2 separate regions of the Homo sapiens genome follow, and region 1 is reported to be linked to region 2. The links are microRNA targets in miRTarBase. Many come from high-throughput screens and were not tested one by one. Region 2 holds a microRNA gene; the other region holds the end of a gene's coding sequence. Distances are between the middles of the regions.
What was found. Region 2 holds the annotated microRNA hsa-miR-6126 (GUGAAGGCCCGGCGGAGA, at 1,993-2,010, shown strand). A microRNA usually pairs through its seed, bases 2 to 8, with sites in the 3' UTR of a target mRNA and lowers its output. Matches are read on the target gene's strand: a 7mer-m8 pairs with bases 2 to 8, a 7mer-A1 pairs with bases 2 to 7 and ends in A, and an 8mer does both.

Region 1: miRTarBase lists PSMD7 as a target of hsa-miR-6126. Seed matches in the 3' UTR shown: 7mer-A1 at 3,133-3,139.

What each region holds. Positions count from the first base shown.
Region 1 is chr16:74,305,006-74,309,392 of GRCh38, reverse strand. It overlaps PSMD7 (proteasome 26S subunit, non-ATPase 7), which reads right to left. Exons shown (of 7, transcript NM_002811.5): 7 at 3,105-4,104. The coding sequence ends at 3,660. Among named protein-coding and RNA genes, the nearest start is that of PCHILR, 6.1 kb to the left of the region's middle.
Region 2 is chr16:3,483,045-3,487,431 of GRCh38, reverse strand. MIR6126 (microRNA 6126) reads left to right here and starts at 1,963; the gene lies at 1,963-2,051. NAA60 (N-alpha-acetyltransferase 60, NatF catalytic subunit) reads right to left here. Exons shown (of 8, transcript NM_001083601.3): 6 at 3,835-4,069; 7 at 2,371-2,733; 8 at 479-1,965. The coding sequence ends at 2,577.

The DNA.
Region 1 (4,387 bases), 71 Mb from region 2:
CAGTACATTTGCTTAGGGAAGTTGTAAACATTTTCTCTTGTGGGCCATATAAATCAAATGTTTCTCTGCCTTCCCACATGTCCTGTATCCACCGCATTTTCCCAGACAGGGCAGATGAAAGTGGTTTTGTTAGCATGTTATAGTCTAACAAACAATCCTAACTCATTCTCAAGTTTTATTCTGCTTAATGGAAAATGGTAGAAGAAAAAGCCTTTGCATAACTACCCAGTGAATGGGAGATTTCATTCTTTTCCATAAGTTGAGGGCTATTTCCTGTTTTCTTTTTCATTTTTTTTTGAGAAAACTAACCCTTCATTGAGATATTTTTAAGTCGAATATCTAGTATAAAAAGTTTGCATTGTTTCAGCTTGTTTTCATTTAAACCTGTGGTTGTCTTTCATCTGCTTCTGGCAATTTTTTTTTTTTTTTTTTTTGAGACAGAGTCTCGCTCTGTTGCCCAGGCTGGAGTGCAGTGGCACAATCTCGGCTCACTGCAACTTCCACATCCCCAGTTCAAGCGATTCTCCTGCCTCAACCTCCCAGGTAGCTGGGATTACAGGTGCACACCACCACGCCCAGCTAATTTTTGTATTTTTAGTAGAGATGGGGTTTTACCATGTTGGCCAGGCTGGTCTTGAACTCCTGACCTCAAGTAATCCACCAGCCTCGACCTCCCAAAGTGCTAGGATTACAGGCATGAGCCACCACACTCCGCCTACTTCTCCATTGAAGTGCTCTAGTTTTGGTAAAATCTTCTCCTTGACTTCAGGACCCTCTCCACATTTATCCCCAGTCTATAACTCGCATATTTCGTGTTTTCAAACAGAAAACCGTAATTCAGGAGTGAACAGCATCCTCTGTAAGGTGTCACAGGAGCAGCCTGAAATCCATTAGGCAGTCATTCTGAAGCTGTGGTGAAATCGAAGGGAAGCTAATGTTGCAGCTAGGAAGATGAGATCCAGGCTGAGGATCACACTTTTTCCAGAATACTTTTTTAGTGTTTCCAAAGCCAGCAAAAGCCGTTTAGAAGTCTCATCTCCAGAATGCCAGAATACACAAATGTAAGGCTTTATTTTAGGGGTGGGCCCTGGGTTTTGCAGTCAAGTCAGCCGCTATTTGTATGAGCAAGACTTCATCGGTAGCACTACTGGGCTCCCCCTCTTCTACATGATGGCAGCAATTTGGCCTTAGAAAATATGCCTAAGTGACTCCACAGGCTATAAGCTATTTTCTTCATAAGTAGAAATGGAAGATTTCTGTTAGGAAGGTAGAAGTCAGTTTTGTCCGTATGTGGGCCAAACTATTAAAAATAATAAGGCCTGGGGATTCCTATGTTCTTAGATGCTCAATAAACATTTCAGTTCATCAAACTATGACCAACTTACAAGTCTGTGGCATTGTGCTAGTTCACTGGACCCTGGGAAAGTCTTTTAAATCCAAATGATACTTTTTGTTTTTTAAAGAGACAGGATTTTGCTCTGTTGCCTAGGCTGGAGTGCAGTGGCATGTGATCACAGCTCACTGTAACCTTGAGCTCCTGGGCTCCAGTGTCCTACCTCAGCCTCTTCAGTAGCTAGGACTAAGGCACATCCCACCACACCCAGGCAATTTTAGAATTTTTTGTAGATGGCTCTTACTATGTTGTTCAGGCTGGTCTCTTACTCCTGGCCTCAAGTGATCCTCCTGCCTCAGCCTCCCAGTGTTGGGACTACAAGCACCAGCCACTGCCCCCAACCCTGCATTATGTTCTTAAAGGCAGACCTGAATCCTGTGCGGTGTCAATTCAGGTGTGCACTGGCCCCTGAGCCTTACATACAGGACCCGTTCCTTAGGATGACGTTGCGTTCCCTTGCTTAGAGCCTCAGCACCATGGCACCTGGCTCTCCCCCGATGCCTGGGTCTTGCTCTTGCCCATTTCCTAGCCAGGGTTTGTGGTCCAGGCAACCTGTCACATCAGTGTGTTCCAAACATGGCACCCAGATCTCAAAAGCTTCTTCAACGCTCCCATGGTTTGGGATACACCTCAAGTTTTAACTTACGTACTTCAAGTTTCTTTTATTCAATTAGATACAAACCGTCTGACTTTTGGCTTCTGAAACAGGAAAGTCAATTTTGTTGTTTTCACTGTACCATGCTTTTTTATCTCAGAATCTTGATGAACTCTGAAATGACCCCTGATGGGGGCATGCCTCTATTTATGCTGAATAAGAGCCATTTTACATTTTACTACAGGTTGAGTGCCCCTAATCCAAAAATTTGAAATGCTCCAAAATCTGAAACTTTTTGAGCACTTACATGGTATTGAAAGGAAATGCTCATTGGAACATTTCCTATTAGGCATGCTCAGCCGTTAAGCATAATGCAAATATTAAAAAAAAAAATTTCCTAAATCTTTTAATACTTCTGGTTCCAAGCATTTCAGATAAGGGATACTCAAGCTCTACCTATTCCCAAATTCCCACTAACTAGCTCTTTGGCAGGTCTATGGAATAAAAATCGATGCTTCTGATTACTTTAAGGCATTATAACCTCATGAAGTGGTTTCTGAGATGCAACTGAGTTTTTGTGCTATTTTATTGTATTCTTATATCTTTGAAGATGAATAATCCACGTAGTGCATTTGAGAGGTTCTATCTGTTCAAGAGAGGAAATTTAATATCCGTGACTACTGTATGTCAAATGATTTAGTGCCTTATTTAATTTGTTCCTCTAGGAGTCCTGTGCACTTATCTTGGGGGAAACATTGTTCCATTCTTAGTAACATGCCTGTTTGGCCTGTGGTCTGAGGTACTTACAACTTGCTGCAGTGTGGTAAATGTGTCCCTTTTGAAACACTGTTCTGGGGACTTCAGAGATGACGGACTGCAACCTACCACCTCATAAATGAGGGATCTGAGGTACAAACTGGAACCCGGGTCTTCTGGGCTCAGAGAACTCTCCTCACTACAGCAGACTGCCTGTTTCCATTTAGGGGAATGAGATGCTCTTTCATAAATGATACCAAGTGCAAGAGAACTTAAGGCAGCTCCAATCGAAGACTGTCTTGGCTGCTTCTGGAAACTACAGATCACTACTCCCGAAGTCAAAAACGACTAGAACACAGCTTAAAAATCAAGCCATTTAATTGTATCTTTGAAGGTAAACAATATATGGAGCTGGATCACAACCCCTGAGGATGCCAGAGCTATGGGTCCAGAACATGGTGTGGTATTATCAACAGAGTTCAGAAGGGTCTGAACTCTACGTGTTACCAGAGAACATAATGCAATTCATGCATTCCACTTAGCAATTTTGTAAAATACCAGAAACAGACCCCAAGAGTCTTTCAAGATGAGGAAAATTCAACTCCTGGTTTTAGAGATAAATGAATGAAGAGTACCAAAATATTTGTTGACTTCTCTTCATTTTTCTCATACAATCTGAAGCCTGAGCTGACTATCATATCCCCAACTCACAGCAGCGAAAGCTGCAGTTCAGATTTGAGATCAGTCTCCATTCACTTCCACGTAGCACCACAGCAAGAGTGACCGGAGGCAGAGAGCTCTTGTTGGGTCAGCTTTCTAATAAGCATGTCAAGTGAAAAAGAACCCTCTAGCAGCACACTGATTTAGTTTGTAAGATTTTAATTTACAAATTAAAAAAGCTATTTAATACATGTTTTACTTTTTCTCCTTTTTCTCCTCTTTCTTTACATCACTCTTTTCCTTATCTTTATCTTTCTCCTTGTCCTCTTTCCTATCCTTTTTGCTCTCTTCTTTCTCCTGCCCTTCTTTCTTCTCTGCATCCCGGTTGGCAATCTTGTTGTTGATGAGGTTGTGCAGGGCGACCACGGAACGGATCAGCGAGGCCAAGTACACTACCACCATCTGGTCATTGGTCTTCAGGTAAAAGGCCTTGACGAACTCCTGCAGGCTGACATCTGGCAGCAGGTTGAAGACGTCCTGCAGCTGGTAGATGATCTGGTGGTTGATGGGCAGCTTGCCTGTGGCGACTTTTTCCAGGTAGCTCCTGATATCCAGAAGCTTGGAGTTCAGTCCCTTCAAACCATGGACCTGGTTTGTGATCCGCTGGGACAGAGTGCCCACCGTCGTGTCTTTGATATCTCTGTAATAACCCACAGTTAAAAAGGGCAGGAAAAGGCATCAGGGTACCATGTTATCAGGCAAGTTCTTACATTCTAAGAAAATTCCTAGCTTTGTTGGGTGAGGCAAGTTTTTAAAAGAAAAATGTCACTTCCCCATTTGATAAAGATTTCGTTATCAATTACCTTAATTTCGTTATCATTTGGAACACATTTTATCTTTCTCATCACAGGACATTTTTCAAAAAACAATTATAAAAGGGAGCTAAAATAAAACCATTTCCACTTAAGGAAAAAAAAATTGCT
Region 2 (4,387 bases):
CTTCTCAACTCTAGAACCTCTTCCCCAGTTTCACATTCTTTTTCTGGAGTCTCGCTCTGTCACCAGGCTGGAGTGCAATGGCGCCATCTCAGCTCACTGTAACCTCCGCCTCCTGGGTTCAAGCTCTCCTGCCTCAGGCTCCCGAGTAGCTGGGGCTACACGTGCACACCACCACGCCCGGCTAATTTTTGTATTTTAGTAGAGATGAGGTTTCACCATGTTGGCCAGGCTGGTCTCGATCTGACCTCGTGATCCGCCCACTTCGGCCTCCCAAAGTGCTAGAATTACAGGCGTGAGCCACCGTGCCTGGCCAAAGGTCCTCATTCTCTGACAGGGTTAATCACACAAAACCACTGTCCCCTTTATCTGGAAGCCATCCTTGGGCCTTGCCAGTGACAAGTAGCTCGAGGCCAACTTCAGCTACAGGGTGAGGCCCGAGGTGCAGCCAGGCGGGTGCGGGAAACAGGATGTGACGAACTCCAATGAAAGTCTATTTATTTGCTCGTAATGAGACAGAACGCTACAATCTGTTCAACACTGGGCTGGACACTGCAGTGATCAGGGGCAGGTGTGGGGCAGGGTGGGGCCTCTGAGCCCGAGGACAAATGTCCATGGCAGAGCCTTCCAGAAGACTCGTCCCTTACCCTGTGGGGCAGAAATAGAAATCACATGATCGCCACTGATTCGCAGTGGAGAGGGCGCTGAGCTGGGCCCGGCAGGCAGGCAGCCTCAGCAGAGATTCAGGCAGTCAGCATGGTGCGGCCCTCCCGCCAGCACTGTCAGGTCAGCAGAGGTTCAAGCAGTCAGCATGGCGCGGCCCTCCTGCCAGCACCGTCAAGGAGGGGGATGCTGCTCCTGCCTGGTGCCTGCCTTCATTCTGAGGGCCCCTGGCCCCAGCTGAGTTCAAGAGGGGACCTGGGGCTGCCCCAGCACCCTGAGAGCCCGTGGCTGGGCAGCTCTGGAGGCGGAAGGACACAGGTCCCTGAGGCCCCGTCTGCCCAGGGTTGTTCCTCCCTCTCCCTCCTCCTCAGGCTGGGGCAGGGTGGCGCCGCTAGGACCCTCTGCCATGGCTTTGTGACACTGCAGCTATGCTGGGCGGGACTCCGCCCCCCACCCCACCCCTGCATCGGAGGGCAGGGCAGGCAGCAAGCAGCATTTGGAATGCAGGGTGGAGAGGATGCTAGAAGTATGTGATGCACCTGCGGCACTGACAGCATCTCTGCCCTCAGAGGCTGAGGGCCCACAAGGCACAGGACTGCCCCCTGCCCACAAGGCCAGGCCCTACAAGACAGATGGCAGCCTTGAGGCCTAATGTCGAGCTCAGCTTCCTCCTGTCTGCATGTGGCCAGGCCTTGGAGCAGCAGCTTGTGGCAGCATGAGGGAGGGCGGGGAGGACCCAAGGAGTCTCGGCGATGCCTGTCCTCAGCAGGTCAGCTGAATGGAGCATGCCAAGGTCCGACGGGCAGTGTGACCTCCCAGGGCACTGGTAACTGCACGGAAGGTGCTGAGGAGTAGGAACCGTCCTGATGCGTGACCGCCTGTGCCAGGGGGCTGAGCCTCAGAGCTCTGTGCTTGCGAGGAAAGCCTCCCCCAGGCTGCCCACCCCTCATCAGCCCCTCATGGAGGAGTGGGGGCCACTCCTCACCCCCCAGGCTTCTTTGGGCTGGTTCTGGAAGGGGACGGGCCATTCCCTTTATTGCGCCCCCTTGTTCCGAGGCTCCTGTGCCTTTACGGTCAAGTGTGTCCATAATACTTGCGTTCCTCCCTTGCAGGAGAAAGTCCCCTCCAGCTTTCCAGGAAGGAGCTGCAAGAACAGGCAGCGGAGTGGGAGAGGCCCAGTGAGGGCAGGCCCCTCCCAGTGAATGCAGCCACACTGGGTCAGCCCTGGGGACGGTGCATGCGCAGGGGGGCAGGGCCAGGGCAGCAGGCAGAGGTTTCCAGAAGCAGGGAGGGGAGCTGAAGAGCCTGTGGGAAAGAGAAGAGCAGGGCAGGGTGAAGGCCCGGCGGAGACACTCTGCCCACCCCACACCCTGCCTATGGGCCACACAGCTGGGCCTGGGTGCTCCAGGAGCATGAGCCCTTCTCCAGGCCATGGTGTCTGCCTGCAGCCACTAGGCGCCTCTCGGTCCCCACACAAATAAAGGCACTGATGGATCCAAAGTCGGGTGCACAGCCCAGTTGCCATGGAGCCTGCTGTGTTAGCTTGGCACAAGTCACCAAACCTCTGGGCTGTGCTGGTGCATAAGGTGGTGGACTCTGCAGTCCCCACGGCCCCTTCCGGCTCTGCCGTTCTCTGTGCCCATCCAGGGCCTTCCACTTTTGTGGCTGGAGGCACCAAGCTCCCATACCTTTGTGTCTGCTGTGGCGTACCTGCCACGGATGGGCATGCTCTGCGCATGCCCACGATGTTCTGTTCCCGAGCCCGTGTAGCACCGGGCCTGCAGCTGGGGCAGGCCGACGAGCCCAGTTAGATGGCTGGCAGCTCCTTGCAGAAAACAGAAGGGGTCAGATGGACAGGAAGGCGGGCTCTGCGGGCGGCCGAAGGGTGGGGCCTGGTGGCGGCTGCCCAGCCGACATCACATGGTCCGGCTGTACTCGATGCCACTCTTGGAAGAGATGCCCGACCATGGCAGGAAGCTGCAGAGCAGGCTGTGGGCCTGGCGGTAGACTCTGTGCGGAATGGAGCAGGGGCTCAGGCTGGCTAGTGCAGAGCCCAGGTGCTGGATGTAGTCCGTGGGGCTCTGTTAAGGAAGATTCCGACTTGCCCTGACCACGCTCGCCAGGGCACAGTCATCAGGGGCCCGCGCAGTGGCCTGTGGGACTGTGTGCAGATGGCAAGCCAGGCTTCGGAGGCTGAGAGCCCGCTAAGCCTCTGCAGAGCTGGAAAGGCTCATGAGACGAAGTGGCCTCTGCTGTGCAAAACAACAGAGGGTGGGGTCTGGGGACAGAAGGGCCTTCTGAGTGAGGCAGCAGGCATGTGGACACCACACCCAGGGATGCACGGGGGGTGGGGAAGGGGCCTGGCAGAAGGGCAGGTGCTTCTGGTTCTCCCTAGATTCTCAACCTTTGTGGCAGCAAGAGGGACAGAGCCCTGTCCATATGACAAGGAGGGGGTCAACAGTGCTGACCCCCTGGATGCCTGTCTTCACATAAGCTAGACGGCCTGTGGAGTGTGGGGTCACCCCTCTCTTTCCTGCTTATTATTCTATGTAATGAATAAATCCTAGACTCATGAATTTGAAAACACACACACACACGCACAGCATTTTTTTGGGCCACATTCTGACTATTATAAAGTTTCCTGGCTTCCCTCTGACCTGTCAGGGGCCAGTGAAAGTTAAGGAGGAAGAAGCAGGGAAGGGCATACCTTTGGGTCATGCATCCTATAAGGAAGGTTTGAACCCAAGTATTCAAAAAAAGTAAAAATCTCTTCTCTCCGCACTTGTTTCCCCTCTGCTAGCACAGGCTCTGGGAGGACAGGGGATCCTGTCCGTTTTGTGCACTGCTGATCCCCAGTGCAAGTGGAGCAGGAGGCTCTCCAGCTGGGTGCAGGGCTCATGCCTATAATCCCAGTAATTTGGGAGGCTGCGGCAGGCGGATCATTTGAGCTTAGGAGTTCGAGACCAGCCTGGGCAACATGGTAATATGTGCAACTCGATTTACCCAAATGTGTGTCAGGTTTACCCACAACACGATCAGGTAAGGGAGAGAAGCATCCATAAGCTTGGCCACCTGAACATCATCTGAGGGGGACCACAGCTCCAACTTGCTCACTGGCTCTGCCACCTTATGGACAGGAAGCCACAGTCCCTCTCCCCCAGAAGTTAAGGATATAAAATCGTCCAGGGAGGGTGGCCGCCGTTGATGTAGAGGACATAGGTGAAGCCATCTTTGAGGACCCCTCGAATGGAGTAGTAATAGGGGAGATAGTGGTGCTGCTTGAAGTCTCTGTTTTCATAGAAGTTTATTGCTGTGTTGTTGGTGGTGAGGACATGCAGGTAAATGGCTTTGCAGTGGTCCTGGGCGGTGGTTGATATGTGATCCTTTAAACTTTCAAGTAAGAGGGAACCTTGGGGAGAAGAGGTAAAGGTAATGCAGGCAGAGCAGTTAGGAAGGAAGGATGACTGGGCTAGGATGGGGGCTTTGCATGAGTCTCTCGGAGATGTCTCGGCCCACCGTATCAGAGACCAGCCTTTCTTCACCACCACTGTCAAAGTCCCTAAAATCTCATGGCCAGATGGAGCCTGGTAGCTACAGACTGCTGGGAGGGACTGCAGAGGTGGCCTGGTAGCGCCCTCCCATGGGCTGGGCCCGCATGGAGACTCCCTTTCAGACAACAAACAGGGTAAATGTGAGCCCAGGAAAACATGGACTAGATGGGCCTGGG